7 linked regions of the Homo sapiens genome follow. The protein of the gene in region 1 interacts with the protein of each later gene in a biochemical or structural test. Each region holds a gene or a part of one and is shown in the gene's direction. Other genes may lie near its edges. The genes, in order: ASNSD1, ARHGAP21, SNTG1, HTRA1, PARD3, MAGI2 and PALS2.

Region 1 (4,487 bases):
AGGGATTTTCATTGAGCATACTTTGAAAACATCTGACTTAAGGAGTTTTTCTTTATTTCAATAGATTAAAGAACAAAAAATTGTGGTGGATGAACTTTCTAACCTTAAGAAGAATAGGGTGAGTTATTATAGGAATTCTGAATAATATGTGGGAGGTTTATTTATGTTAACTATATATTAAAGTTATAAGAAGTATATATAAGATTTAATCATACTTTAATAAAATGTATAGTATTTCAGCATCTTTTAAAATTGCAAGTGTCTAGATTCTTTTTTTAAATGGATAGATCTCATAGCTGAAGATGTCTTTTTTCTATCATATGCCATTCACATTGCCTTTGCAACAAATGATACTAGTTGTATTTTGGTATCTTGGAGCTATAATCACTAATGATGTTTTATACCTGAATTTGATGTTTTCTTTTGATATAAACGAACTTTATATTGAGATGAGAAGAAACTTTTCTTTTAAATGAATGTGGATAATTATTGAACAAAAAAGGATACATTGCTTCCCCTCCCTCCAAAAAATTTTTACATAGATTTTCCTAAATGTGTAACATGGTTATTTAATGCCATTTCCATTAATATGTTACAAACAAGTAAGCTACTGCTTTGTGTATGGTTATAGTGTCAAATTGCATTTTAACATTCAGGAAGAAATGAGTTTGAGCTCTTAAAAGCTTTGTAAAGATTATGTAATAACTGGCTGGTTAGATATTTCTGATATTGTCACTTATGGAATATTAGAAGTTGAGGCACATACAAAAATTAGCCAGGCGTGTGCCTGTAATCCCAGCTACTCAGGAGGCCGAGGCACAAGAATCGCTTGAACCTGGGAGGCAGAGGTTGCAGTGAGCTGAGCACACCACTGCACTCCAGCCTAGGCTACAGAGCAGGACTCCTTCTCAAAAAAAAAAAAAAGAAGTTGAGGCAGAATTAATACAGACTTTCTCTAGAGGGCAAATTGGCAAAAAGTCTCAACAATTCAAAACTATAACACTTTGACCCAGCAGTTCCATTTATAGTAGTTGATACTTAGGAGAGAATCATGGTAGTGCACAAAGATTTAGTTACAAAGATAATCATCACAACCTTGATTTACAATAGCAAAGAGATGGTAACACCTTAAATGTCTAGTATTTGAAGCTGAGCAAATAAACTGTAATATATTATATCTATATAGCAGTAGGTATAATTTGGTCACCATAGCTTGCTTTGGCATTTTGGTGTTCTTGTAAAAGAACACTTACTGATAAGAAAAAGTATTCTCAATATATTGCTCATTGATAAAAGCATAAATCTGCAGGTACAGTAAGAACCTTTTTTGTTAAAATGGAGAGAAAATAGTTTCATTTCAGTAGTAGCAATTTCTGGTAGTTGGGCAGTGGGTGACTTTTATTTGTCTTTTTGCTTGTCTGTATTTGCTAAAGTATTGTACTGAATAGATTTTCAAGAATTAGTGATAATAGGGTTTAAGGATTTTAATATCTACTTTTTAGATCAAAATTTGATATTAGCCTAAATTATGTTTTCCAGAAAGTATATAGGCAACAACAGAACAGCAATATATTCTTTCTTGCAGACCGAACAGAAATGCTGTCTGAGAGCAAGAGTAAGTTTTTTCTTTTTTGGGGTTTTTGGGGGGTGCCTAAATTATACTCATCTGAGTGTTAAAATATATATCTAAAGATTAATGCAGCAGTTTGATTTTCTTCAAATTAGGCTTCCGAAGATGAGTCAACAGTTATATATATATGTGTATATATATATATATATATATATATATATATATATATATATATATATATTATAAATGTTTTAGAAAGCAATAGTTATTAACATGTGCTTTAGAATTTTAAACAGGTCTAAGTATGACAAACCATTACCACTTTCTACCTTTGTGACTTTGGGTGAAATACTTTAAGCCTCCAAGGTATTGTGGGATCTAAATAAGATGCTATGTTAAAAGTGCTTAGCCAAGTGCTTGGGCCAAAATCAGCACTCGGCAAAACAGAAGCTATTTTTCTAAAAGATAAACATTCTTTATTAGTAGCCTGTTGTTAATTATCATTGGTACTGGCACAGTGTGTGTGTTTATATGGTTTGATTTTGGTAAACAGCTTGTGTTGCCCTCTGAATTGCTAGGTAAAAGTCCAAGAATTTTTATGTTATTTAATATTTATTCTCCTTCCCTGCAACAGATATATTGGATGAACTGAAAAAAGAATACCAAGAAATAGAAAACTTAGACAAGACCAAAATCAAGAAATAGTCAACCTGATTTCACATAACAATGTGTGGCATTTGTTGTTCTGTAAACTTTTCTGCTGAGCATTTCAGTCAAGATTTAAAAGAGGACTTACTATATAATCTTAAACAGCGGGGACCCAATAGTAGTAAACAATTGTTAAAGTCTGATGTTAACTACCAGTGTTTATTTTCTGCTCACGTCCTACACTTGAGGGGTGTTTTGACTACCCAGCCTGTGGAAGATGAAAGAGGCAATGTGTTTCTATGGAATGGAGAAATTTTTAGTGGAATAAAGGTTGAAGCTGAAGAGAATGACACTCAAATTTTGTTTAATTATCTTTCCTCCTGTAAGAATGAATCTGAGATTTTGTCACTCTTCTCAGAAGTACAAGGTCCCTGGTCATTTATATATTATCAAGCATCTAGTCATTATTTATGGTTTGGTAGGGATTTTTTTGGTCGCCGTAGCTTGCTTTGGCATTTTAGTAATTTGGGCAAGAGTTTCTGCCTCTCTTCAGTTGGCACCCAAACATCTGGATTGGCAAATCAGTGGCAAGAAGTTCCAGCATCTGGACTTTTCAGAATTGATCTTAAGTCTACTGTCATTTCCGGATGCATTATTTTACAACTGTATCCTTGGAAATATATTTCTAGGGAGAATATTATTGAAGAAAATGTTAATAGCCTGAGTCAAATTTCAGCAGACTTACCAGCATTTGTATCAGTGGTAGCAAATGAAGCCAAACTGTATCTTGAAAAACCTGTTGTTCCTTTAAATATGATGTTGCCACAAGCTGCATTGGAGACTCATTGCAGTAATATTTCCAATGTGCCACCTACAAGAGAGATACTTCAAGTCTTTCTTACTGATGTACACATGAAGGAAGTAATTCAGCAGTTCATTGATGTCCTGAGTGTAGCAGTCAAGAAACGTGTCTTGTGTTTACCTAGGGATGAAAACCTGACAGCAAATGAAGTTTTGAAAACGTGTGATAGGAAAGCAAATGTTGCAATCCTGTTTTCTGGGGGCATTGATTCCATGGTTATTGCAACCCTTGCTGACCGTCATATTCCTTTAGATGAACCAATTGATCTTCTTAATGTAGCTTTCATAGCTGAAGAAAAGACCATGCCAACTACCTTTAACAGAGAAGGGAATAAACAGAAAAATAAATGTGAAATACCTTCAGAAGAATTCTCTAAAGATGTTGCTGCTGCTGCTGCTGACAGTCCTAATAAACATGTCAGTGTACCAGATCGAATCACAGGAAGGGCGGGACTAAAGGAACTACAAGCTGTTAGCCCTTCCCGAATTTGGAATTTTGTTGAAATTAATGTTTCTATGGAAGAACTGCAGAAATTAAGAAGAACTCGAATATGTCACTTAATTCGGCCATTGGATACAGTTTTGGATGATAGCATTGGCTGTGCAGTCTGGTTTGCTTCTAGAGGAATTGGTTGGTTAGTGGCCCAGGAAGGAGTGAAATCCTATCAGAGCAATGCAAAGGTATGACACAGTGTTTCTTCTCCTGAGAATTCCTGAGACCTATTTTTGACCCTTAAAGCTTTTAGCATTTTGATTGTAAGAATATAGCATATTTTAGGTGCATTTATCTTATTTTCTTTACTGTGTAGTTGATAACATTTTTATACGGATTTCTTTAAACCTCATAGGTAGTTCTCACTGGAATTGGTGCAGATGAGCAACTTGCAGGTTATTCTCGTCATCGTGTCCGCTTTCAGTCGCATGGGCTGGAAGGATTGAATAAGGAAATAATGATGGAACTGGGTCGAATTTCTTCTAGAAATCTTGGTCGTGATGACAGAGTTATTGGTGATCATGGAAAAGAAGCAAGGTAATTCTAATCATTTGAGTGTTCTTACGGTATTTTTATAAAAACAGCAGAGTGTAAATGGAGACTTTAAAGTTTGTTTTCTCTTTGGAGACTGTTCACATGAATAAGAGCAGCAATAATAGCTTGGCTTTGTATTATAAACAAAGTCAGAAACAGAGCTGGGAAGAGCCAGGAGAGCATTTATTTTCTAGAACTCATTCTCTAAGAAATGTCTTTTCAGTAATTTTCAAAGGTAACATAATGACAGGATTGTTTTTAAGACTATAGTGAAAAATACTGTCAAAGTAGGCCAGGCATGGTGGCTCACACCTGTCTTCCTAGCACTTTGGGAGGCCAAGGCGGGTGGATCACCTGAGGACAGGAGTTCAAGACCAGCCT
Region 2 (4,551 bases), on another chromosome or scaffold:
AACCCGGTCCCTACTAAAAATACAAAAATTAGCTGGGCGTGGTGGCGCACACCTGTAGTCCCAACTGTTTGGAGGCTGAGGTATGAGAATCCTTGAACCCGGAAGGCAGAGGTTGCAGGTAGCCAAAATCGCGCCACTGTACTCCAGCTGATCGTTACATTACCTCCTATAAGACAATTTTCTGTCTTCCCATTTCCTTTGAAATAAAATTCAGACCTCTGTGAAGTCTGAAAGGACTTTGGTAATTTGGTCCGCGCTTCTGTCTCACTTGTTACTTCTTTTTGTTCTTCCTAGATTGAACTCCTGTCAGGTCCTTTCTTCTACCCTTCCCTCTACTGTCCCCTGTTCCTCCTCCCTCTGCTCCATGGCTGATTTTTACTCATCATACTGGTCTTTTCTTCAATACTGCTTCCTCAGGAAAGCCTTCCCTGACCCGCAAGACTCTTTCAGTTGCCCCTAGTGTATTCTCTCAAAACACCCTGCACTTTCAGGAATACCAGTTACAAGTTTATCTATATCCCCCTTGGATTGCAGTCCCTATAAGAGCAGGGACCATGTTTGTTTCCACAGGGACTGACACATAGTAAGTGTCAGGTGATATTTTTTGAATGAATAAATGAATATGCAGGAAAGGCTTTACATTTTATTCAGTGTTCATTTAGATTCCCGGACATTATACTCTCTTGATTATCTTCCTTCCTCGTTGTCACCTCCTTCTGTCTCTTTGAGGTTTCCTCGACATCCTGATTTGCTAAACCTTTCTACACCTCAAAGCTCAGTTAATCCTCATTTCTTCTCCCAATACTGTTTCATGGTTTTAAATATCAAGTATATGCAGATAATTGACACACACACACTCACTTATATTTCTTTATGTGTACATGTGTATATCTCTATTGCTGACCTGCTCCTCTGTCTCGCAGAATCAGATTCCTATATCCAACTGACCTGACTGCCTAGAATCTCCATTTGAATAGTAAATAGGCATATCTAAAACCACAATCCTGACTCTACCTCCATTCCCCTGGCCCACCTTCCCAAGTATGCTCCTTCCAGTCTTCCTCATCTCAAGCAATAGCAATCCCATCCTTCCAGGCCAGGCATCTTGGAGTGATCTTTGATGTCTCTCTTTTTTCTCATATATGACATGTGGATCTGGTTGACTGATTTCTCCACTTCAGTCCTTGCCAGCCTAAAGCCTGTTCTCCACACAGCAATCAGGACAGACAATTTATAAATCAAGTTGTGTCATTCCTTTGCTCAAATTCCTCAAATGGCTTCTCATTTCTCTGAAGATTGAAGGCCAAAGTTCTTGCAGTGACCTGCAAAGCCCTGTATAATTGGTCCTTCCCCCTCCCTGAGCGCACCTCCTGTGCCTCTTCCCGCCTCACTCTGTGCTAGCCATTCTGGTCTCTTGCTTTTCTGCATGTACACAAACGTGGGAGTCCCCAGAGCCTTCCCACTCACTGAACCCTCCCCTTAGAACACTTCCCCCAGTCTCTGCACAGCTTGCTTCCTTGGCTCCTTCGGGCTTTTGCTTAGAGGTCACCTTCCGAGTGAAGCTTTGCCAACCACTCCCTTTGTTGAATGCCCCTCCCCTGCTCCCTGTGCCATGCTCTGCCTTCCTTCCTTGCTTTATCTCCCTATCACTTAGTCTCCACCCGGCATGCTTATGCATTTGATTTTGTTTGTTTATTTGAGACAGGTAATATATCTAGAACGCAGGTGTTGAGAGTGCAGTTTGTCTGTTTTGTTCACATTGTGTTTCTTGTGCCTAGAAGAGTGCCTAGCACATAATAGGTTGTCAATAAATATGTTTTTGGAATGAATAAAGACTTAGCAAAACTCCAAAATGTTACTGAGTTTGCATTTGGACATGTAGTATGTGAATTCTTATTTATTTTATTTCTTTTTGAGACAGAGCCTTGCATTGTCACGCAGGCTTGAGTGCAGTGGTGCAATCTGCGCTCACAGCAACCTCCGCCTCCCAGGCTCAAGTGATTCTCCTGCCTCAGCCTCCTGAGTAGCTGGGATTACAGGCGTGTGCCAGCATGCCTGGTTAATTTTTGTATGTTTAGTAGAGATGGGGTTTTGCCATGTTGCCCAGGCTGGTCTCGAACTCCTGATCTCAAAGTGATCCACCCACCTCATCCTCCCAAAGTGCTGGAATTACAGGTGTGAGCCACTGCGCCCAGCTGAATACTTATTTTAGTTTATATAAAATATGTACAGTATGAAATATGTTCTTCCTTAGACCTCCTGCCCACCTTAAATTCTATTTCATTTCCGTTAGAACTGCTGTTAAAATTTTTGGTGCCTTTTTTCTTTGCACCTTTTTTACCTTTGGGAAGCTGGTAACCAAGTAACAGTAACCAAGACAATGTGTAGTACAAATGTATGAAACAATTTCCACTAAGAGATGAGATCATGATAATTAACAGACAAGTGAAAGGGCAATCAGACTGGTCGATAAGAGAAGCTATAAAAAGATAATCTGTATGGATGATGTTTTATTTCTTAAAACGAATGGCTAGTATATGGATGTTCCTTATTATGTATTTTTATTTTTTCATGTCATAAATATTTCATAACCAGTTAAAAAAAGATCACAAACATTGACCGTGATGAAATGTTAACAGTTGTTTATTCTGAATGATGAGAATATCAGGATTATATTATTTTTACATTTTCTCTTTTTTATTACCAAAATGACAATAAAAGAACACTATGTATAGACTTTAAAAATAGGTAATATGTATTCAGTCTTGTGAAAATTTGGTTTGTGGCAAACCTACACTGCTTAAAACAATACTAAAAAGCATACACACTGCTCAAAGCAACACTTAAAAAACAATTTTTTCTTTTTCTTTTCTTTTCTTTTCTTTTTTTTTTTGAGATGGACTCTCACTCTGTCGCCCAGGCTGGAGTGCAGTGGCGTGATCTTGGCTCACTGAAAGCTCTGCCTCGCGGGCTCATGCCTTTCTCCTGCCTCAGCCTCCCGAGTAGCTGGGACTACAGGCGCCCGCCACCATGCCTGGCTAATTTTTTGTATTTTTAGTAGAGACGGGGTTTCACCGTGTTAGGATGGTCTCGATCTCCTGACCTTGTGATCTGCCTACTGTGGCCTCCCAAAGTGCTAGGATTACAGGCGTGAACCACCGTGCCCGGCCAAAAAACAATTTTTAAAAAGCAAGTTTCTTCATTGGAGGCATAGGATTCATTCTAGACTAGTTACAGTATGGTATAACTCTATTATTTAATTTTAATTTTGTGTTTCTTCATACACCTGAATTTAAGTGTCAGAATACTGTTCCATGCCAAAAGTTTTATGCTGCAAGTTAGGGTTAAAGCTAAAACCTGTTAGAATTGAGAATGATGGCAGTAGCAGCAGCAGGGATCATTAAGTGGCATTTCGGCAGAAGCCTGGATTTTAATGTATTGAGTGGGGCCTATCACTAGATAAGAGCCATCAGCAAAGTGAGTACCCAGATCTAAAGAATTTCTCCGTAAATTGTTAGTGTTCCTTCCCATTCATTTCTTCCAGGTTAAGCGTTTTATGAAGTTCATTGTGCCTTGATGTTCTTCATTTCTTTAGTTACTACCAGGTCAAGTAATCTAGCACAAAGGTAATATTCAGTTTCTTTTGTTCTTTGCTTTGTGAAGGGTCCTGTCTTCTTATTATAGTTAACAATATGCTGATTTAAGTATGGGCAATGCTAGCGTTGATAAGATGCACAGATGCTGTTATTCAATGCAGCTATTTTCTGTTACAGAAAGACCATATGGTAGGCACTTGTTTTTCTGTCTAGTTGATGTGATTAGATTACTAAAACGAAAGGTTATTGGACTTAAAGATTGTCCTACTATTTTATCTAATTTTAATTGACTGTAAGTAATTAAATGTGTTAAAATATTGTAAGCCTTCCATATCTTCCCTGGTTTGAAGTAGAAAGATATCTAAATGCAAAAAACTCAATTTTGGATTGCTTTCACTAAAATAGTTTTATGGTTTAAGTTGCCATGTTCTTATAAAATTGGGTATTGTGCAAATTATTTCACAATCTAATCTGGATGATGGCATTTTGTGCTTCTCAAATAATCCAAAAGACAAATGGATATATTGTACTATAGGTTTGAGAAACTTGATGTGGGCTGGACGTGGTGGCTAATGCCTGTCATCCCAGTACTTTGGGAGGTAGAGTCGGGAGGATTGCTTGAGCCCAGGAGTTTGAGACCAGCCTGGACCAAATAGGGAGACCCCCATCACTTAAAAAAAAAAAAAAAGAAAAAAAGAAACTTGATGTGATGGAAATGTTTTATAAGTCCTCTTCTAGTTATCTATTTAATGTGCAAGAATTTCCACTATGTAGATTTGTGAATAAAAGAATAGATTGAGAACCCAAATTTGATATTTCTGACTATTCATCTGTTTCGGGGTAAGTAGACAGATCAGAAGAAACTGTTTATTATTGTAAAAAATAAAAATAAAAAAACAGGGAAGTTAAAGACTTTATTTACTTTTCCCTGGTGACTAGCTGCTGAGTTTTCTAT
Region 3 (4,551 bases), on another chromosome or scaffold:
AATGCCACATGAATATGTTGTTAGAAATGTCATACTTATTTGTTAAGTGTTTGTGTATATGTTTGACTCTCAAGAAAATCAGATCATAAAAAGAGGAGTGGCTCATCTCACAAAATCTTTGTTTGGAAATCGATCTGCCTTTATTAAGCACTAGAGGCTAAAGAGTTGATTTCAATGCCATTTGATATATGAATACACTAGCATAAATTGTATTCATCTAAGATCAATGATTAAAAGGAGGGCATTTATCATTCTCCCCTATCAGGCACAGAGGAGAAGTGGTGTGCCGCCCTAGTGGTATTGCCATAAGATGTCTATCTGATTTGCTTTCTTTACTCACTTCAACATTCTGTATTAAAGCACATTCCCAATTAATAAAATGTCAGTAATTGGTAAACAAGTGCGATGCATCAATGAATTCTATTATAAATAAGTATTTTTTTCTGTAAGAATTGATAGAGTGGGAAATATAATCCATGGCAGGTTGGATGGCATAAACACTTGATAAATGCTGGTAGAAACGTATAAGAAATTCTTATGAGAGGTTTACATTCATTTACTGAAGCCAAATCTGGTTTAATGTACTTTTTTGCATCAATCAATTTGATAATTTTATGTGAGTTTTTAATACTACATGAAAAATACCTAAAATATTTTTAATATTTGCATCTAAATATTTTTAGATATAAGATATCTAAAATAAGAAGTTTTGACAGTTGATTGTATTCCATTTTCTTGCAGATTGTCTACATGGGCTGGTGTGAAGCCCGGGAGCAAGACCCCCTCCAGGACAGAGTGTACTCCCCGACCTTCCTGGCCCTGAGGGGCTCATGTCTCTACAAGTTTCTGGCACCTCCAGTACGTGTTTTATTGAAATGTATTGGTCGTTTCCATATTATCACAAGAGATTGACACCAACTTAACAGCACCAAATAGTATACCATCAATATTTTTAAAAAATAATATAGAGAAAAAGTAGAAATCAGTTTATCTGATTTAACTTACTAAAATATATATTCTGACATTAAACATTTGCTTTAACACCCTTGAAAAGTCTGGAACTTACTTCTTTATAAATAGTGAACCTATAAAATAATGGATCAAATTATAATGCCATTACAAATCTCATGACGACATGGGAAAGGAGATTTTAAGAAACATTTTCAAGCATATGTCAGTGTATTTTGTTTATGGAATAAAAATTAAAGAAATGAATATATCAAAAGTGAAATAAAAAAGAATAAACTGTTTTAGGGCTATACATGAATGAACATGTTTACTAAACTCTTATTTTCCAAGGATCTTTTGAAAGTTCTTTTAAATTTATTCAGCACTTTTAATTACTAGTAATTTATTATTAGCAAAGAATAATAAGGAAATTTCAAAATGATAGCATCTTATCTAGCTACTATTAAGTCTATCTCACCCTATGGTAATCCCATAGGATGATGTTAACTCTCATGGTGTTCAACATTTAAATTAGAGGATTCTATCCTTGGCAAACAACACAAATACATTCTGGTAAGCTATCATTTATGACAAGTCGAACTTGCTTATTTATGTTGTACAGGTCTCTCTATATAAAATCAATAACATTTTCATCTTCTATTATATTCTATATCCTAGTTATTGAGATTTGTACTAGATATGTATAGATACCTATTGCACCTCAAGTCTTGCTTTTGGAAACATGTACCTTGCAGCTCAGAAGACACTTAATAAATATTTATTGAATATAAATACCAAATGCCAGACCAGTCACTTGCAGGTCTAATAATACATAAGATTTAGAAATCATCAGGTCTAACTTGCTGCTGTTTTAAATGTCTGTCTCTACACAAAGTTTAAAGCACTAGGAAGACAGAGGAAAAATTGATATTTATATATTTTACTCTATTCCTACTCTGAATAATTTATTTGACAAGACAGTTAAATATAGTTTCCAACCTAAGTAAGTGAAATAACTGCATTATGCTTTGGGTATGTTTGCAATGTCACAGTCATCTTGGAATTTCTTAATATAAATGATGTATATTTAAAAAATATAGCTGTGTTGAGGTCTGGTATTCTCTGTATTTAACTAGTGGTAAATTAAAAAAAAAATATGAGTGTGGAATGTAAATACTTAGTATTTATAGGTAGAGAATGCGTATATTATTTAAGATATATAAGGACACTGGGCAAATGAGAACTGTTGCACATAATATAAATCATTTGCTGAAAGCATAAGACAAATGGTAACAAAGCTTGGAAAAGAGGAAACAAAAGCATTATGTAGGGTCCTTTATGAGCATGGCTTCACAGATGAGAGACTAGATACATCTGTGAAAGTTTTTTCTTATTTTTCACTATATTATGCAAATCAAATACAGTGGTAAATAACTTTCTAAAACAAATTAAACATTATTTTCTTATCTTTTAAAGGTGACCACCTGGGACTGGACGAGAGCAGAGAAAACATTCTCAGTTTATGAGATTATGTGCAAGATCCTCAAGGTATGATCAATATGTAGTCAGTATTTGAATGGCTTTTCCTCAGCAAATAGTGCCTCTGGGCTCATAAGCAGCTCATGAAAACAAATCATTCATGGAATGAAAGAAGAGACACGATAAAGACAAATGAAAGAGAAAGAAAATAAACTGGACAAAAAAGAGAAAATATAGAATGCACAGAAGTGCACTGGCACTCAGCTATCTGCTTAAATAACTTGCAAGCAGACTCTGCAGTCCCACCGTGGGTGAGGGAACAGGGAGAAGCTCCTCAGGAGTTCACTGGGGAAGAAGAAAATTCAGTTGAAAGTAGTCTGAATTTAAACGTTGGTTGTTACCATGTTTTTTTTTTTAATTCTTTTTTTCTGAATAAAATGCAAAAGAGAAAGATTTGGGTGAGACCTGGAATTAGAAAATATAGAAAATATCAGGAAAAATGCAAAGAAAAGTTTTGCTGTTTTGTTCTTAATCTCATGGCTTGACCATCTTTTTGCATATGTAAAAGAACATTCGATTGTCATATATCAGTTGAATTTCATGCCATATGCAGGATTATTACAATATCAAGCCATCACAAATTCTATAAAATGTCACATGGTTTCTATAGCGTTTTTTAAAGAATTAAAATTGGAATAACCTATAAAACATGAAGACTAATATATATTCACTTTCTACTTTAGGGTTTGTAGGCTTGGACTCACCACAGATTGATAATTAAATTCCTGCATAAGGTTGACCTTGTTTCTGTATCCAAGGGGAGCTAATTTCCCTTTGCTTTATGTTAGCTATTTCTCTTCCCGTTAAAGACTTAGCAGAGTAGAAAAATGCTGAAACATTTAAAATATAATAAAATGCATCAAAAGTGTCTGAAGGCAGAGAGACAAAAATTATAATTACCTCAAAATTGTTTATAGTTTCTGTTCCTTATAGAGAACTTTGGATTAAAGCTGAAGTTCTCTGAAGTGCAAAATCCAGCCAAAAGTATAGTTCATTGATTGCTCATCACTGTGCATGCTTTGAGTTCTTCTGTAGGCGTAATGGTGGAAGGACAACCTGAAATACTTGAGTGTATTGTTAGTAAAGAAGGGTCTGACAATTTCTTAAACAGAGGCTAGTATCTGAGGAAAAGGAGATCATACACGACTCCAGTTTTCTGAAATAATTGCCAAAATGGCTAATGAGATAGCTTTCTTTTTTTTGGAGATGGAGTCTTGCTCTGTTGCTTAGGCTGGAGTGCAGTGGTGTGATCTCGGCTCACTGCAACCTCCACCTCCCAGGTTCAAGCAACTCTCCTGCCTCAGCCTCCTGAGTAGCTGGGACTACAGGCACATGCCACCATGCCCAGCTAACTTTTTGCATTTTAGTAGAGACAGGGTTTCCCCATGTTGCCCAAGCTGGTCTTGAACTCCTGAGCTCAGGCAATCTGCCTACCTCCGCCTCCCAAAGTGTTAGGATTACAGGCATGAGCCACCGCGCCAGGGCGAACTGTGTATTTTTAGGAAAGCTACTCATGTAATTAGGGGAAGAAAAGAAAGAAAGAAAAGAAAAGAAGGAAAAGAAAAGAAGAAAAGAAAAGGAAAGAAGGAAGGAAAGAAGGAGGGAAGGAGAGAGAGAGAGAAAGAAGGAAAGAAGAAAGAAAGAGAAAGAAAGAGAGACAGTAAGAAGGAAAGAAGAAAGAAAGAAAGAGAAAGAAAGAAAGAAAGAGAGAGAGAGAAAGAAGGAAGGAAGGAAGGAAGAAAAAGAGAAAGAAAGAAAAGAAAGAAAGAAAGAAGAAAGAAAGAAAGAGAAAAAAGAAAGGGAGGAAGGGCAGGGAGTGCACAGAGGGGAGAAAGGAAAGAAGGAAGGAGAAGGAAGGGAGGGAGGGAGGGAGAAGGAAGGAAGGAAAGAAAACTGCCTCAACAAATCAACTTTGTCTATTCTCTATCTGTACACTAATACAACTTTTATCATAGTAATAACGCAACACATATTTATATATTCTTACTTAGACTTAAATTATTTTCTAACCACTCTCCAAGTAGCTGCATGATCTTTTAAATCCTCTCTTTTAAAAAAAGCTAT
Region 4 (4,551 bases), on another chromosome or scaffold:
AGCAAAACATGAGAGCTATTTTTGAGATACATTAAAGTGTCAAAGTGTCACTGAATATCTTCCTACTTAAGATAAGTGTGTCTCCCTTAGAACATTTTCCCTATTCGACTATATAAATCTACATTCTTGACCCTTCTGAATGTTTAAAGAACCTCGGGCTCTGAAGAGATTCTCTAAGAATATTTTGTAAGTGGAAGTTTTTGATGCATGCAAAAAATTGGCAGGATGTTTAGTGTTTAAATGCTAAGCCCGATATATAAAGGAGCGATGGCTAGGTGTGTGTGGCTGTTGCACAACCCATTAATCAATGCGTTGAAGCGTTCATTTTAAGGTGCTACAGGCTTAAGTGTGTACTCCTTTGGATTTTAGGCTTCCGTTTTCTAAACGAGAGGTGCCGGTGGCTAGTGGGTCTGGGTTTATTGTGTCGGAAGATGGACTGATCGTGACAAATGCCCACGTGGTGACCAACAAGCACCGGGTCAAAGTTGAGCTGAAGAACGGTGCCACTTACGAAGCCAAAATCAAGGATGTGGATGAGAAAGCAGACATCGCACTCATCAAAATTGACCACCAGGTAAGGGTGTTCTCGCCTGCAGAGGTGAGTTCTCAGATGCCCCGGAACACCCTTGGCAAAGGCACCAGAGCTCTCTGATTGCAGCTGATTCTCGGGGGGCACTGAAGCCAGTCTGAGCCAGTCACAGGAGGGCCTTGAGGAGATGCTGAGTATGGCCTGGGGGTGTGGGAGAGGAAGGGGCTCAGGAAAACTTCTGTAAGGAGCCAGATAAAAGTTTTTAAAATAATGTTTTAAATGTTTGTCAAAGAAAGCAATAGATTTGTAAAGAAATTAGTAGGTAAGTAGTGAAAATTGATTCTCCTTCCCATTCCCAATCCTGTGGCAACTCTTGTTACAGATTTTATTTATCCTCCACAGATACATCATGCGTTCACAATGAACATAGAATTTACTGGGTTTTAGACTGAGCCATCCTTAACTTGTCAACAGTTACTTTGAAAACAAACCAGCTCTCCCAAATTGGGGTTTTGCGGGGTTATGAGATGTGTTTCAAAAGAATGTTTCGTACTTTAAACATCTTGGAAAACTTGAATTAAAACAGAGCTAATGGATTTCTTCTTTCCAGACCTTCTCAGAGCTTTTAGTATGCTAGTGTGCACGTGGCTTGCCTACAAAAGGGTGTTGACTGAACTATTTGCCCAAATTATAATCATTTGAGTATACAGCTTTTTGTGGGGGCAGGCAGAACTGAGACATACCAAAATCAGTTTGGGAAATGCTGTATTTGAAAATGCTTTCTATTTAAATATTCTCTTTGCAATCATTTTTGCTCTGTTGATTTGCTTAGCAAAGTCTTCATGTCTGGGACAATATCCATTTCTTACTGACTCATCAAAAACCCCCACTCGACACGTCGATGAGAGAGGTTTTGTTTGCTGTGTGGCATGTTCAGTGAAAGCGTGGTTTCCAGTTTCTTCACATCCTTATAATTTTCTAGACTTCAGATGGAGGGAACAATCAGAGGAGGCTGGAATCCTGCCTCTGACCAAGGAAAAGACCAGAGGCTGAGCCAGGTGGGGTCTCTTGTCCAGCCCTCTGCTTGCCTCGCTTTACCTGGGTGTGGGCTGAGTAATTCCAGACAAGCGTGGAATTAATCTGGCTGTTTGTGCTGTTCAGTGGCACGCTGGTTACACCTCCTTCTGGAAACAACTCTGCGTGTGCTGTTTGGGTGGTAGGATTCCGGGTCTCCTTCTCCGTCTTTTTATAACATCAAGTTGCTGCCCAGCTCAGGCTCCTTTACGGCCAGTCTTCAGAAAACCACCAGCTAACACATTTACTACCCTCCTTCCCCGATGTTCCTGTAGCTTCTCTATGGCTGGGTGGCCAGGCATGGCCGAAGAGGCTCTGGGTAGATATAGGCTCTGTGCCCGGTGTGTGTAACTGGCCTTGAGTGAGGCTGCAGTTGTGTGTTATTTCTATTAGGTCACTGTGGAATTTCTAGCGACAACTAATCTTTCAAAGTGTGTTTATTGGTCACAGGATTATTGGGCCAGCCTCTGCCTTCATTCTTTTTCACCTAATCTGCATAATAGCTGTGTTATCCCCATTTTAGAGAAGAAGAAACAGGGGCTCAGAGAAGTCTAGTAACCTGTGTGAGGCCACACAGCAAACACCTCATGACCCTGCCCTCCTAAGGCAGCCCATGGCTACTGCTGGAGGGATAGAGGCCGGCCCCGTGGTTTGATGGGACAGCTTGACCTTAAACAGCCCATGGGAAGGCGGGTGCATCTGGTTTAGGAACAGGCTGCTAGAAAGGTATCCAGGATGTGGTAGTCTCACCGGAAGGAGCCAGTCAGAATAGCACAGCCTGTGGCCACGCGTGGGACCTGTTCAGCCTCATGGAGCTTTGGGAGGCAGCCAGCAGCAGGGCATGGGCTGTGTGCAGGCGAGGCGCTGGCCTGGACGCCGCCCCCACTGCGTAACTTCGTGTTTGGAATGCGTGGGCACATACCGTGCGGCTGCTTCTGGCCGGGGGATATTCTTTTCCAATTTTGAGCCAAGGTGGAGACTGTCTCCTCGTGCCATCCCTGGCATGTCCTGGCAAGACGTGAACGATCTCAATAGACGAGCTTTGCAGAGTGTGTCTGACCTGACTCCTGCTGTCTTGGGAGTTTAGCTCTTCAGCCAGCAGCATGCTGTTTGACATGTGTTTCAAGCCCCCCAAGAAAGGGTGCTTGAAATTTAAAATTGAACTGATGTGGCTTTTCAAAATGGAATTGGAAATGAAAGGATATTAAATTGCAGACACCCACACAAAAGACTGGTTTCCACTGACTAAACTGCTTTTTTTTGCTGATAGTAGTTGAAAGTAGGGAGAGTAACAGCATCTCTTCCAGCTTTTTCTCTTTTGTTCCCTTGTTTTGATGATGGGTTATTTCGGGGGAAGCTCTGGCTGGCCTTGCTTTGTGTCATCTTAGGGATAACAAAGAGGATGAAAGAGATCAGGAAAACCGAGAAGGCAGAACAGAACCAGCAGAAACTGTGCTTGAGGAATGAAAATCACCTACACGGCTCCTTGTCATATGAGACTGTGGCCCAGCCTCCTGCAAAGCCATTTAAGAGTAACCCAGTGAAGCTGGTGAGACTGCCTGCCGCGTCCGTGGGCCCAGTGACTAACTCGGTGGCTTATCATCTGGGCCCAGCTCCTCCCCTGGCATCCTGATTTCACTTGGAGGGGCCCCCGTTGTCCTTCATAAACATGTTTATTTCATTTTATTTTTATGTTTTGAGACAGAGTTTTACTGTTGCCCAGGCTGGAGTGCAGTGGCGCCATCTCCGCTCACTGCAACCTCCACCTCCAGGACTCAAGTGATTCTCCTGCCTCAGCCTCCTGAGTGGCTGGGACTACAGGCGTGCACCACCATGCCTGGCTACTTTTTGTATTTTTAGTAGAGACCGGGTTTTGCCATGTTGGCCAGGCTGGTCTCAAACTCCTGACCTCAGGTGATCCACCTGCCTCAGCCTCCCAAAGTGCTGGGATTACAGGTGTGAGCCATTGCGCGTGGCTGTAAACGTGATATTCTTGAGACTTTCAGTGAAATAAGAATTGCCACGGACATCTGTGGTCATTGTCCACTTGCCACTCACCTACCCCCTTTTCTGGCAGCAACAGCCGGCATTTCACATGTCCATCATCGGACAGCGTAGGTGGGACCATCAGTCATGGTGTCCTACCCTCTGTGGCCAAGGAGTGGACACAGGACCCAGTTAGGGCAAGCAGAGGCTCCCCTTGGAATCGCAAAGTGAAGCTGGATGCCACCCACAGAGACTAACATGGTGAAGCTGCTGTAGCCCCTGCTGTTGAGCCCCCAGCACTGCCTGAGTTCTTGCACTTTGTGAGTCCAGTTTAATATCTGCTTTTCCTCCCATTCTTGGAGCTCCCCTCACATCTCCAGTGGCTTGAAGTTGCCAGAGATGTTTCTGGGCTTGTGACCAAATGACTCCTTTTCTGCTTCTCACTGCTGAGCAGACACATGTGCGCTCACTTTGCCTGCTGAGTCTTGGGACCCGGAAGAGCTTTTGGGAGACAATCACGGACCAGCCCCCTCTTGCCTGCCCTGCTGTCTCCCTCCAAGCAGGAGGTGAGAAGGTGTCCACCTGCAGCCCCGGCCAGGCATCCCTTTCTGTGCTTCTGCCCAAATCTGAAATTCCCCTCTCCTTGGGACCCACGACTGGGGCCAGCCTGCCTGGGGAGGGAATCCCAGCTGCAGAAAGTCGGGACAGTGTGCGTGTAAACATGTTAATAGAAAGCAGCTTTGAGGGCAGACTAGTTCAGCTTCAGTTACAAACTCTTTCCAAATGCGTTTAACATGAGCCACTGGCTGTGCGCAGCATATGTCAAGCTTTCATCCAATGGTGGCATTTTGTCCCTGCGGGGTTTTTTTTTCCTGAGCAGTTTGGGGCAGGGGTGGGGACAGGGAGAGAGAAAAGTAAAAAGAGAGCAGTTTGGTTTCTTCAGGCTGGAGTACAAGGCAGAG
Region 5 (4,551 bases), on another chromosome or scaffold:
TATCCTGTTTTTGTTTTGTGGAATTTCTTTTCTTAGCAGCAACACACAAGGGTAGAAATGGAATTTATTTTAAAAGTCAACCTACTAACCCAAAGCACCCTGAGTCTTATCTAATTATTTTGTGAAAGAACTGATAGATTTTTTAAAGTTACTTACCTTTTAACATATTTCAAATTGTATTTCTTATATGTCTCAGGTTTATTTTGCTCTGTAGAAATTAAAATGTAAAAGTGCAGAGAATAAGACTATGTCTATGAGAAGAAGATAGCAGTTACTGTAGTAAAATTTTTGATTGTGAAAGAAAATGGCTTCAGGACATTAATATCAAATGCAGAACAATAGTAAGGATTTGACCATTTTGACTGCCCCATTTGCTGTATAAGTCCAGCCCTCAAGGAGGACTTTAGAGGTAGTGCACGTCAATCTCAGTATTTGATGTGGGGAGGGACCAATTTGTTTGAGGCTGCCAGGAGTTTATAGTAGGTTGCTGAGAAGCCAGGCCATTGACTCTTGTCTTTTGTTTTCTTGTATTATTGCATTACTTCCCTTTCTTTTTTTTCTTTTCTTTTCCTCTCTTTTCTTTTTCTTTCTTTTTTTTTTTTTTTTTTTTTTTTTTTTTGAGACAGGGCCTTTCTTTGTTGCCCAGGCTACAGTGCAGTGGTGCAGTCATAGCTCACCGTAGCCCGCAACACCCCATGTCAGCCTTCCAAGTGCTGTGACTAGAGGCACATGCCGCCATGCCCATCTCATTTACAAATTTTTTGTTGTGTTGGAGTCTTGCCATGTTGCCCAGGTTGATCTGGAACTCCTGGCCTCAAGTAGTCCTTCTACCTCGGCTTCCCAAAGTGCTGGGATTATGGAAGTGAGCCACCATGTCCAGGCCTGCTTCTCTTTCTTATGGTGATGTGGAAGTCATGATGTCGATTGCCGATTCTTCATACATCTTCCATCCATTATGTATTTTAGTACCCTTCCTGTATACAGTGGATCTCTGTATAGAGAGCATGTTCTTGCAGTTTGCCTCCTTCAAAGTTGAGTGCAAACTATTGGACTTGACTTTATGATTTTCACCCAATGTTTCGTCCAGGCACCAAGATACACTTTTACTGTTCCTGATCCATTTTAGCTGAGCATTTTGATATATTTTTAAATCATGTCTTTCAAAATGGTATTATTATAAAGAATATTTTTTTTTATAGGCTCAACCATCAACTCTTATAGTTGGATGGAAATGATTCCAAGAGAGGTTCATTATTTCCTCAGGTCATGTGGCTGTTGGCCACAGATTCTTACTAGTATGTTTTCCATATCCGGATATTCAGACCATTCTTCTTTACATTTGGGGTAGCATTTACAAGGTTGTAAACTCTGAGACTGCTGTTTCCTTTCTAACTCATATTCTTTCAGTGAACTTTATGTGAACCTCAAGTTTCTTATTTCTGGTTACTGGTTTTTAAGCTCTAAATACTTGGTTGACATGATCAGGAGTTGACAGCTTGCCTCGTTGCAAACACAGAGTCATATCAACAGAAACCCCTTTAGCTCTGTCAATTCCTAAATGAGAGAAATATCACATCCTCTTTCCTCCTTTTGCTCTACTTAAATGACAGGCCCTTGTTTTTAACCAAAAACATATCAAGAACTACAAATAGAATCGTATAAAAAATAAAATTCTGCTTGATATCTCTAAACAAAGGTACAGTATTTTGCTTCACCATTGTCATAAAGATACTGGTTCATAAATATCTTTTCCTTTTTACACTGATACAGCAATATTCATTTAGTTAATTATGGTTTTTCAAAAATTAGGATATTTGACAAATCATGATATAACATGAACTTTTTAAATGAGGTGATTTGCCATTAAAAGTACCATTGTTTTGCTAATGAAAGAATGAGAAATACAAAGGAAATCTGAAGTGAGAAGATAAAGGTAAAGTATTAAACAGAATACAGATTCTCCAAAAAAAGGAAAATAATGAGTATATCTAATTTTTATGTTATAGTAAGTCTGAAGTGATAAATAAATCAAATTGATACATTTTACTTACAAAACTGGTACCATTGTTTTGAATACAGATATTATTTTAATAGCATTTAATGAAAAATATGATTGCATTTACACAAGCTAATTTAGAAAGACTATGCTTAATCACTGAAAGGAGAAACAATGGTTTTAAGTGTTTTTCAGACCTTGAGTAATCTTAATGATATAGAGTCCCATAGATCTATCTTGATTTTAATTTACCAACTGTGAGAATGTATGACAAAAAGCACATGCTGCTTGTGCATGCTGCCAATACTTACAAATATTTTATATAAAAATTATGTTTACTATAAATGTGGGGAAGAATGCTGATTATCTTTGATTAGGACTAAATGCATATATTTTAATAATAATGAATGTAGGAGAATTGAACAGGCTTTCCTTGTAGCTAGCAGATTTTTTTCTTACAAGTTATTACATTTATTAGTGAAGTACATTAAAAACATAGGGTGTGTCAGTGTTAAACTTCAGATTCAGTTCAAAGTGAGCTAATGTGCTTTGAGTGGCAGCAGTTCTTCAAAAACTGGAATCAACTCTTAGTACAAAAAAAGATGTCAGTATAATTATTCTTTGGCCTAATTTTGGAGCTATGTTATATAACATGACAACAGAATAGCCTCAGTGTACTTGCTTCCATAATTATGATTTCTTAATATTTATTGCCATTTTGGTATTCTCAAATACCCAGCTCTTTTGTAGAAATTAGCTTTTTAATAAAGTCAGAGGAGAAGGTCAGTAATCTGTTTCAGTCAGTGCAGAATGTTTTGTTGGCTTTGTTAAATGAAAATTGATATCTACTTATCTTTCCTTGAAAGGTCATTGCCTGAACTTTTAGCTTACAGATTTAGGGGTTGTTGCTGATATTTTAATAGTATTGAGGTTCCTACAACAGTCAGCATTCATAGTTCAAAAAAGTTAGTATTGCAAAAGGAGAGTAATTAAGAATTCTTTCTTAATAAATGTTATTGCAAGTCATTAGAGTTTCATGAAAGCAGAGACATATGGAAAAATCTCCCCAGAGCAATAACAAACATTTCATATAGACAGTATGCCATTCAGGTGTTCAGCATGGAAGACATCAGAAATATTAATAGTCCAAGCACCCTAAAGTGACTTCAGACTAAAGTAAATGAATGCTTTGTTTGATGTTGAGAATAACTATGGTAGGTTTTGCTACAGGAATAACTATGGAGTGTTTTCTTTATTTCTCCTTTAATGTTTCTTTAATCTACATTTTTATTCACCCTTTTTTGTTCACTTATATTTTATACTTTTCATTACAGTTTTATACTGAGTGATGTATCAGATTAATGTGCTCTTTTCTAGATTTTTCACCTTTACAGATCTCTTTATTCTTCCCATAATGAGCAAGCATTTGCCTTAACAATATTTTAACTGAAATGGAAACTAATATCTTAAGAAGTAACTTTTTAAAAAAGCTTAGGTAGAAATCATTATTGTAAAAATGTTGTGATTCATTACAAATGTATCATTATCTCCCCAGTTTTTCCTGGGCACGTGTTGGCTTCTTGCGTCTTGATTCTAGTGACATATAAACACTTTTCTGCTTTGTATTGAGCATGTAAGACTGTCTGTCAAGAAAGCTGCCAAAGAAATGAGAATTTAAATTCTGTGAATCATCAGAGTAATTTATAAATGCATCATTAATTTAGTACCTTTAAGCATAATATGATCCCCAGATTTGGTAGCCATGATCTGAGATGGAGTCTTCACTGAGTAATTTGCCTTGTTTGGGAGTGGGGGGTGGTGAAGGAAATATACATGGTAAGATTTAGGTGAATTAGAAGTGAACTAGGCAAAGATAATTTGGTTTATGGTTTATCCTCTTAGTAAACTGCTTTGAATAATTATGATTTTGGGAGGTTCCATTACCTCTATCTAGAGATACCTCTCATTTCACTGTTCTTTTCCATCTCCCTGGACATTTTTGTTTCCCTTGCTCATACCTCCTACCCTTAAAATTTGGATGTCATTATTGCACAATAATACTTGAGTTTTGAGGTACTGTGGGTCTTAACAGAAGTTTTTTTCTTTCTTCATGTAGTGAATTTCCTATTCAAAGATTTACATTGATTTAAAAACTTTTAGCAGTCATATTTACATATTAACTTTCATCTGTCTTTGAGAAGATTGCTGTTTCTTCTTAGATTAATAACTGTTGATATGTAAACCATTTAAACCTTCCACAATTTAGTCTATTTTGAAAAATTTATTACAACTTTTAAAGTAGTAGAAGAAATGTGGACCATTGTGAAAGTTACAAAATGTCAAGTTGAGGTTGAGTATACTGGTGCAATACACCTGTAAAATTCAAGATATCTCATTTTATTTACTTTTCTTCTCCTTCACATACCTAGGTACAGAAGGTTTGGGATTCAGCATCACTTCCAGAGATGTAACAATAGGTGGCTCAGCTCCAATCTATGTGAAAAACATTCTCCCCCGGGGGGCGGCCATTCAGGATGGCCGACTTAAGGCAGGAG
Region 6 (4,551 bases), on another chromosome or scaffold:
CACTCCAGCCTGGGCAACAGAGTGAGAATCTGTCTCAAGAAAAAAAAAAAAAAAAGACAGCAGCTAGAAATTTTCCAATTAAAGTTAAGAGTAGATTTTTTCATTTAATAATTACTTTGAGGCATCTGATTGATGGGTAACTGATTCTTCATTTAAGGGTATAAAACAAAGCTTGTTAACAATATAAAATATTAGTCTCTTTACTCTCTCTGTGTGTTTGTGTGTGTGTGTGTGTCGGTGTATGAATAAAATCTAGAATTTATTCTTGCCCTCCCTCCTGCCTCTTTAAGTTAATAAAGAAAAGCTGTGGCTTTGGGGTTCCGGAACCTCAGGTTCTTGTGCAGAGCCTCACCAACCAATTTTCCCTGATGGCTGAATCTGTTATTTCTACCACCAAGTCTGCATTTCTATGATACGCATTTCCAAGTCAGAGGATTATCCACAGTCCAAAAGCAGAAGGCATGCACATCATGTCTTTGTTTCTCCCCACTACCACAATCCTTTGACAGCTGGGAAGCATCCAAGTTGGAATTTAAACCCAGGCAGGGCTGACACCAGAGACTGGCAGCCCTCCCCGTGATCTAGCACCAGCCTCCTCTTACCCCGTCTAGCCCTGATTTGAAGATGGGCCTCCACATGGTTTCCTGGCTCTACAGCTTCCCTATAAGCCAGAAGGACACTTTCTTAACCTGCTATAAGGCCAGCTCACAAGCAGTTAAGTAAAACAAAATTAATCTTTCCAGTGCAGGTGAAACACAGTAGGAAGACCATGTGCAAAATGGCCAGAGCCCTGTGAGAGATAGAGACCCACGGTGGACTACAGGGCTGGTCTCTGTCGGTTACAAACAGTGGCCATGTATTTTCACAAGGGATCTAAATGACTCGCTGCTGGATATACACAGTACTCCCAAGGCAAAGAAGCCTAAATAGAGAAATACCCTTGCAGGAAAAGATTCCTCTTTCTTACAGAATTTAAGCCAGAGCAATGGTTCTCAGCACGGTTCCTGGCATCAGCATCACCTGGAAACTTGGTAGAAATGTAGATTCTCTAGCCCCACCCAAAACTGCTGAATCAGAAACTCTAGGAGTGGGGTCACCAGGCTATGTTTTAGGAAGCTCTTCAGGTGAAACTCTGAGGTTTTACCTTCCGAGGTTTTATTATAGATACCTGTGTCAACTGCAATCCAAAAATATTACATAAAATTTTTCAGAAATAAACAATTATAAATTTTAAATTGTGCAGCGTTGTGAGTATCGTGCTGAAATTTTGTCCTTCCCAGAAGGTGAAACAGCCCTTTATCCACACTGTAGATGCTACCTGCCCACTGGTTACTCAGCAGCCCTCTCGATTATCAGATTGACTATCATGGTATCGCACTGCCCGTGTTCAAGTAACCGTTGTTTTACTTAGTAATGGCCCCAAAGTGCAAGAGTAGTGATGCTGGCATTTTGTTATAATTGTTCTTTTTTTATTGTTTTTGATCCCTTGCTGTGTCTAATTTGTAAATTAAACTTTATCATAGATATATATAGGGAAAACAGTGTATATAGGGTTAGTTCTGCCTGTGATTTCAGGCATCCGCTGGAGATGTTGGAATATATGCAAGAGGTATGAGAGGGAGCTACTATATTCACTTTATCAAAAAACCAGTGGAGAGTAGCAAGTTTTGACTTTAATTATTATACTAGATGGTTTTTCAACATCAGTTAATACTGATGTATTAAAAGTTGAATAGATAAAACAAAACACAATCTGTGAATGCAGAAAATAAGGGGAATAATAAAAAGAGATATATCATTGTCACGTCTGCTTGCTTTTCTTCAGTCAGTCAAGAAGGCTGGTGTCATAAGAGAAACACAATGGACATTCAGATTTTAAGGAAAAGGATAATAAATTATTAGAAAATATTACTGGAGCTGTTTATAAAAAGAAGACTTACGTTTGTAAAATGGCCTAATAAAATTGGGAGGGATGAAATTTTCATAGCTAGTGAATAAAATCTCTGATACAAAGCTCCTAGGAATATAACCTAATTAAAAGCCAAAACTAAATAGAAAACACAGGCAAAAAATAATGAACATAAAAAATAATATTGGCAAAGCTCAGTAAAACAGGGAATGTAAGAAATCAGGAGACATTTGGAGGGAAAGAATAGAAATTCTAAGTGCTTAAATAAAAATCTGAGAGTCAAGTTAAAAGAGAAATCTGAAAGGAGATCGTTTGCTCTTAAAATGGTAAAATATTTTCCTGTTTCCATAAAAGTGTAATATAGTTCGCATTTCCATAAAATGTATTTTTATGATGAAAAAGAACATTATTTCATAACTTCATCACTTGCAGCTGGGTACCATTTGTGTATGCCTATTTAGCATCACATAAGCTTATTTATAAGATGGTTTACCTACTTTCTGAAACTCACATGATGCAAAAGTCTGCCTGCAATGGGCTTTGGAATGACTAAAACATTTTGTTCAACCAATCAATGCACAAAAAAATATCATTTGCCCATCTTTTTTTTAAAGGAAAAGCAACATTCCCTGAAATTAGCTTCTTCTAAATTTGTCACCTTTCCTTCTATAGACCAGATATAACTAGTCAATACAAAAGCATCTTGGTTTATATATTGTTTTTATTAAACATAAAACGATTTACAAGAATATTTCTAACATATGTAATAAGTGTAAATACTAACCATGATTCAAGGACCCATGAACCCATAGCCCCACTTAAAAAACAGAACATTACCAAGCTCCCATGATTTCATTCTCCTCCTACTCTCCAGCCCTCAGAGGGAACCACCTTCCTAAATAAAGCACTTGACATTTCTTCTGTTGTTACCACAGATGTGTGTATCTCTCAACTATAACCTTTAGCTTGGTGCACTTTGTGAACTTTATGTAACTGAACCATACTGTACATGTTCTTCTCTGTGGTTTGCTTTCTATATGTTATGTTCATGAGATTCATCCAAGGTTGGTGCATGAAGCTATAGTCCATTTATTTTTCACTGCTATAAGTTATTTCATTATGTGAATATGCTACAACCTATAATAATTATCTATTTTTCCATTTTATGGACATTTGAGATTTTCCCTGTCAATTTACACTTTGGTTGTTTCCAAGTTTGTTGTAACTCATACAATCTTTGTACATCTTTCCTGCTGTACCTATGCAAGACTTTCTCTAGACTAGACTAGATGCCTTGGAGGGCACAAATTTAACTTACCTAAGTAACACAAAAGTATTGTCCAAGGTGGTTTTACAAAGTTATACTTGTATTAGCATATGTAAAAAAGTTTTTCTTACTACACACACTCACAAGATTTGTACGTCAGACTTTTAAACTCTCATTCTGGTAGGTAGAAAATTATATATTTTAGATTTGGATTTGCATTTCTTGATTACAAATTCATATTCATCATTTTTTCTTATATTTATTAGACGTTCATGTTCTCTCTTAACTAAAAAATGCCTGTACATGTCTTTCCTCATTTTCTGTTGAATATTTCTTCATGTTGATTATAGAAATGCTTATATATTATTGGTGATCTTTTTCATCAATTAATGTGATACAGATATCTTATGCCAGCTTATGGCTTGCAGTTTCACTTTCTTTATGATGCTCTTTGATAATGAGAAAGTCTTAATTTTAGCGTAATTGGCTTAACCCTTTTTTTTTTTTTTATAGTTTCTGCTTTCTGTGTCTTGTTTGAGAAATCATTCTCCAAGACATGGTCTTAAACGTCTTCTCTTATATCTTCTTCTAAAAGTTGTATAGTTTTACTTTTTATATCTAAGTATTTAATCACCTACAGTTGATTTCTCTGTATGATATAAGGTAGAACCTCAATCTCAATTTTTCCATATGGATAACCACATGTCACAGCATCATTATTTTTTTTTTTTTTTTTTTTTGAGACGGAGTCTCGCTCTGTCGCCCAGGCTGGAGTGCAGTGGCGGGATCTCGGCTCACTGCAAGCTCCGCCTCCCGGGTTCACGCCATTCTCCTGCCTCAGCCTCCCAAGTAGCTGGGACTACAGGCGCCCGCCACTACGCCCGGCTAATTTTTTGTATTTTTAGTAGAGACGGGGTTTCACCGTTTTAGCCGGGATGGTCTCGATCTCCTGACCTCGTGATCCGCCCGCCTCGGCCTCCCAAAGTGCTGGGATTCCAGGCGTGAGCCACCGCGCCCGGTCCACAGCATCATTATTTAATGAGTATTTCTTTGTCCCACCCCCCACCAATCTGCAATGACAGCTCTATAATAAATTAAATTTCTATAAATGCAGTGGTCTGTATATGGATTCTTTATACTGTTCTACTAGTCTATTTGTCTATCCCTGCATCAATGCCATACTTAGCTACCTTTTAATGAGTGTTGAGTTTTGTATGGGGAAACTTTCTCTCCCCCAGACACACATCTTAATTCTTCAGTGGTGTTGGGATGTTCTTGGGCTTTTGCCCTTCCATATAATTTTAGAATTTTCTTGTCAAGTGTTTTTGTTTTTGTTTTGAGACAGGGCCTTGCTCTGTCGCCTGGGCTGGAGTGC
Region 7 (4,551 bases), on another chromosome or scaffold:
GAAAAGTTAAACTGAGCTAGAAGTAGAAATATGGCAAGGGGTAGCAAAAAATTTCAGAAGATGACTATTATGTTTCTTCCTACCCTTTGAAGACATGAACTACCCTTTGAAGAAATACTGACAGTATCAAAATATAAAAAGAAGTTGTTATTAAAAATTGAAGCCATACTAGGACTCTCTAAGTAGTGAAGTTTACTATTCCTTGGTAAAATTATTACTTCTGGATCCTGACTATAAGAACAGTGAGTGCAAAAAAGGAAAAGCCAGGAATAAGTCCATCAGAATGCACAAATACCTTTTCCTGCTCTCTCGAGTTTCCATTTAGCCTGTAAGATACATCCTATCCACTAGTGTAATAAACTATACTAGTACACAGTTTAATGGGAGTGAAATATTGAGACAGGAGAGAACATGGGAAAAGTAAGAATGATTCATTTTACCTAGTTTTAGAATTATTTTCTTACATATGCTCATGAATATTTAAGCATTTCTCCCTAATAATTAATGAGAAATCTGTTTCTTATTTTTCATAGGGTGTGACATTTAGGGTTGAAAATAATGATCTGGTAATTGCCCGAATCCTCCATGGGGGAATGATAGATCGACAAGGTCTACTTCATGTGGGAGATATAATTAAAGAAGTCAATGGCCATGAGGTTGGAAATAATCCAAAGGAATTACAAGAATTACTGAAAAATATTAGTGGAAGTGTCACCCTAAAAATCTTACCAAGTTATAGAGATACCATTACTCCTCAACAGGTTAGTAATAAAATTTTTGGTAGTATTAAAAATACTTTCATGTTTTTAATCACAGTGTTGGAAATAACTATCAGTTGCTACTATTTTGCTAAAGAAAAGAGAAAAAATTGATTTGAGTGTTCTGAAATGGCTTATTTTGTCATGGGTGAATTTTTGAATTTTTAAACAATGCTATTTTACTATTGTAAAGGAAATAGTAGATTTCTTCATTAACACCAGGAACCCTGGCATAATAGTAACCTACAGCTAGGTATCAGAAGAACCATAAAGTCTTTGAATTACTAATCTAGTAAACATTTCTGACAGCTGTTATGTTCAGGCATTGTATTAGGCCCTGGGAGAGGATAAAAATGCAGTCCAGATCACCTCCAGCTTAGTGTTTGTGTCATGGGTGAAATGACTGATGAGGCCAGAAAAGAGGATGGGTATAAAGAAAATCTTGGACCCCTGGTTTGCACACATTTGATCTGTATTTTAAAACTAATTTTAGGTAAACTAGGTAATTGAACGGGAAAATGTTTTAGTTATAGAGATTGTCTAGACTCGGTATGTTAAGTGAATTCAAAAAGAAGAGAGATGAGATTATGTAACCAGGTGGCAGATTTTTGAAGGTGTGAGGTGATTTGTGAACAACAGCTCTAATGAATGGTTAAGATGACCACTTAGGTTCAAATACCAGTGCTGCCAGTTATCAGCTTACCTTCTCTGTGCTTCATTTTTCTCATCTATATAGTTAGGGATAAAATTTGTTTTCTCAAAAGATTGTTATGAGGATTAAACGAGTTAATTCATGTAATGCTCTCACAGCAACACCTGGCACATAATGAGTGCTCAAGAAGTGGCTGCACTTGCTGTGGTGATGACGCAGTAGTGGTGAAATGGAACCGTAAAGAAAGAAAAAGAAATTGCGGAGGAAGAATTGAAAATTATGATAGGAGTGTTGGAACCAAAGAGAGGGTTTTCAAGCCTAAGTAATGTAGAAGTAGATGCCTCTAATGCTTAGGTTTATTCCAGAAATTTATTGTTTGATGTATGAATGAAATTATAAGTTTTCTTACATAAGATACTGCCAGTGTATCTTATTTCATATTGTTAAAATGAGAGTTTAAAAGTCTAGTTCTTACATTTCCATACAGTTATTTGAAATAACATTTCATTGAATGTCTATTTTAAACTGTTCTTTCAAAGGTAAGGATAGATTATTTAGTCATTAATATTAGCATGTAAATTGAACTTATGAAAATAGATAGGCTTGTAATTAACTTTGGTTGAAATGAAGGTAGTTTTGTGGTCCTCAAGGAAAAGAATTGTGAAAAATAAATGATATTAGTACTTAGACATTTCATATCACTAGTACCTCTCAGGCTACCTTTATTCCTCAGTTGGCAACTTTCAATTTGTGACAGCCTGAGGCCTTATCTTGGACCTGCGTACGCTGGAAGAGTAAAATCTAGGATTTACGTATTTTATTTATTATTATGTGTTAGTTGTAGTAGGAAGATCTTATTTTCCTTCTGTGGTCTAAACTCCAGAATTCTTCTAGCTCACCATGGCTATAAGAGACTTTTACAGGCAAAATAAAATTTTATAATATTAATAACTAGGGCTTTGGCCCAAATTCCTACATAGATTTTGCATCTGGTGAACTAACTGAATACCATGAAATGCAAGGACATTTAGCCTTGTTTAAACATAAGTTTTCCACATTCCATACCCTCTCAAACTCTGCTTTTCACTTAGCATTTAGAGCTGGGGAAATGAATTCAAGTAGGAGAGGAGGAGTCTTATAAGTCCGAGGTAGCCTGAGGCGTGTCCTCCCATAAAGAAGTAAAGAAACTATAACATGAAGGCTTCCAAAAGAACATCCAAATTGAGACTTTTTTTTTTTTAAATGAAAAGGGGAACATTACTCATATGCTGGAATAATAGGCATAAACCAGGGCATCTGCAAACCATGGGCATCCTACTGAGATGCTATAGGGAAGCAAGGGCATTTTGCGTCTTCAACTCTTTCACTAAAATCTCCACCATGTAGTGCTGTGGAGCTAGTCTCAGCTCTGGATTGCTGCAAGAGCAAATGAAAGCCAAGAACTCTTCCCTACCACGGTAATGTTTTTCAAAAGCATAGTCAGTAGATGATCTTTATCAGAATCGTTTCAGGTGCTTGGTAAAAGTCCAGAATCTGCTATGGGACATAAGTATCTATGTTTTAAATTTTGAGGGCCAGAGTGAGTTAGAAGTAGCCAATTCTGAAGTTCTTCAACTTTCTTATAGCTTAGATTTCCGGGGGCTATTCGTAATTCCATTTGTTTATTAAGGCCAACTGATAGGAATTCTCTCTTATTCTTTGGAACCAACATGACCTGGACAACTAGAAACAATATAAGAAAATATATTACAGGACTGTTTCATTCAAGGATATACATTAAAAATTCTCAACAAAATATTAGCAAATCAGATTTGATTGTGTATATAACAAAGATGATACAACATATCCAAGTTAGATTTATTATCCCAGGTATGCTAGGAGAGTTTCATATTAGAAAATCCATATGTATGTAACTAAGCACATTACCAGATGAAAAGAGAATAACCTCAATGGAGAATTTGATAAAATTCAATGATTTTTAAAAAATGATTAGTAAATTAGGAACAGAAGGGAAAAGCCTTAATTTTATTACAAAAAAAAAAAATAGAACAAACATTATTCTGAATTAACTAATGTTAGAAGCTTTCCCTTTAAAGTCAGAAACTGGCCTTGCAGCTGGTCTGCCTGAGACCTCTAGTGCCAACCCCAATACCCCACGAAGTTTAATTTCCACTCACGAAATTCCACTTTCGTTTTCATTATAAAATGAAAAAGCCCTCACAAACCATGAAAAACTTGCCAGATTTCAAGCACAATTGTGCACTGGTAAAAAGGAACTGCCCTCAGATGATACAGCAAACATTATCTGTTAAAACAGATGATAAAAAAAATCTTCAGTTTTCCTGAAAGAAAGTAGAAATAGGCAATATCTCTGATACTAAAGAGGTATGTCTGCAAACCAAGGAATGGTGATCTTCATTAACAATCCCAGTGTTCAGACATCTCTAGCAGCGAACACTTTGACCATTACCAGACATGCTGAGACAAAGCAGCTAACAGAAATGCCACCCAGTGTCTTAAACCAGCTTGGTGTCAACAAGCTTAAGGAAACTGGCAGAAGCTGGATGGAAAAGTACCACTTACTATTGGGGAAGTGGTGATCTTGTTCAGAATTTTGATGAAGCTTCCAACAGTGAGGCAAACTGAATTGATTCAGCTTCTAAAAAATAATACAATTTCAAGAATTTTAACTGCTTTTAAAATTTTTGTTTTATATATGATAAAATGTAAGTCTATAAATTCCAAGACCCTTGGACACTGCTTTTTAATTATTGATTATATACAGTTATTTATTGGCAATTAATTAGCCAGAAAATAGTTTAAAACAAAGATAAAGCCTTTGCCTAGTTAAAAAAAAAAAAAGAAACTAGAGAAGGATGCTCACTAGCACCACTTATATTTAATATTTTCTTGAAGGATCCATAAGTACAGTATGACAAAAATAAATTATACAAGCAAAATGTTTGGAAAGGAGGCAATAAAACTTATTTACAAATATGATCATGTTTTTGCATAGAAACCCCTCAAAACTACAACTTATTAGAAATAATAGAGTTTACCAAGGTACCTGAAAATAAGATGAAGACACAAAACTCAATTGCATTTCTGTATGTCATCAGCAAACGTCTAGAAATGTAACTA

What was found.
Region 2: the proteins of ASNSD1 (region 1) and ARHGAP21 interact in a test that uses a peptide from one of them, tested with the Homo sapiens proteins (one large-scale study listed by IntAct).
Region 3: the proteins of ASNSD1 (region 1) and SNTG1 interact in a test that uses a peptide from one of them, tested with the Homo sapiens proteins (one large-scale study listed by IntAct).
Region 4: the proteins of ASNSD1 (region 1) and HTRA1 interact in a test that uses a peptide from one of them, tested with the Homo sapiens proteins (one large-scale study listed by IntAct).
Region 5: the proteins of ASNSD1 (region 1) and PARD3 interact in a test that uses a peptide from one of them, tested with the Homo sapiens proteins (one large-scale study listed by IntAct).
Region 6: the proteins of ASNSD1 (region 1) and MAGI2 interact in a test that uses a peptide from one of them, tested with the Homo sapiens proteins (one large-scale study listed by IntAct).
Region 7: the proteins of ASNSD1 (region 1) and PALS2 interact in a test that uses a peptide from one of them, tested with the Homo sapiens proteins (one large-scale study listed by IntAct).

The regions. Positions count from the first base shown.
Region 1 is NC_000002.12:189,663,837-189,668,323, forward strand, and holds part of ASNSD1 (asparagine synthetase domain-containing protein 1), read left to right. Parts: intron 1-64; coding exon of another isoform or gene 65-118; intron 119-1,539; coding exon of another isoform or gene 1,540-1,615; intron 1,616-2,204; coding exon of another isoform or gene 2,205-2,275; 5' UTR 2,276-2,296; coding exon 2,297-3,760; intron 3,761-3,927; coding exon 3,928-4,109; intron 4,110-4,487. Other genes in the region: ASDURF protein, read left to right, coding at 65-118, 1,540-1,615, 2,205-2,275.
Region 2 is NC_000010.11:24,713,372-24,717,922, reverse strand, and holds part of ARHGAP21 (rho GTPase-activating protein 21), read left to right. Parts: intron 1-4,551. UniProt on the Homo sapiens protein: Functions as a GTPase-activating protein (GAP) for RHOA and CDC42. Downstream partner of ARF1 which may control Golgi apparatus structure and function. Also required for CTNNA1 recruitment to adherens junctions.
Region 3 is NC_000008.11:50,656,168-50,660,718, forward strand, and holds part of SNTG1 (gamma-1-syntrophin), read left to right. Parts: intron 1-741; coding exon 742-858; intron 859-2,424; coding exon 2,425-2,496; intron 2,497-4,551. UniProt on the Homo sapiens protein: Adapter protein that binds to and probably organizes the subcellular localization of a variety of proteins. May link various receptors to the actin cytoskeleton and the dystrophin glycoprotein complex.
Region 4 is NC_000010.11:122,489,053-122,493,603, forward strand, and holds part of HTRA1 (serine protease HTRA1 precursor), read left to right. Parts: intron 1-369; coding exon 370-574; intron 575-4,551. UniProt on the Homo sapiens protein: Serine protease with a variety of targets, including extracellular matrix proteins such as fibronectin. HTRA1-generated fibronectin fragments further induce synovial cells to up-regulate MMP1 and MMP3 production.
Region 5 is NC_000010.11:34,377,981-34,382,531, reverse strand, and holds part of PARD3 (partitioning defective 3 homolog), read left to right. Parts: intron 1-4,425; coding exon 4,426-4,551. UniProt on the Homo sapiens protein: Adapter protein involved in asymmetrical cell division and cell polarization processes. Seems to play a central role in the formation of epithelial tight junctions. Targets the phosphatase PTEN to cell junctions.
Region 6 is NC_000007.14:78,120,366-78,124,916, reverse strand, and holds part of MAGI2 (membrane-associated guanylate kinase, WW and PDZ domain-containing protein 2), read left to right. Parts: intron 1-4,551. UniProt on the Homo sapiens protein: Seems to act as a scaffold molecule at synaptic junctions by assembling neurotransmitter receptors and cell adhesion proteins. Plays a role in nerve growth factor (NGF)-induced recruitment of RAPGEF2 to late endosomes and neurite outgrowth.
Region 7 is NC_000007.14:24,649,952-24,654,502, forward strand, and holds part of PALS2 (protein PALS2), read left to right. Parts: intron 1-533; coding exon 534-761; intron 762-4,551.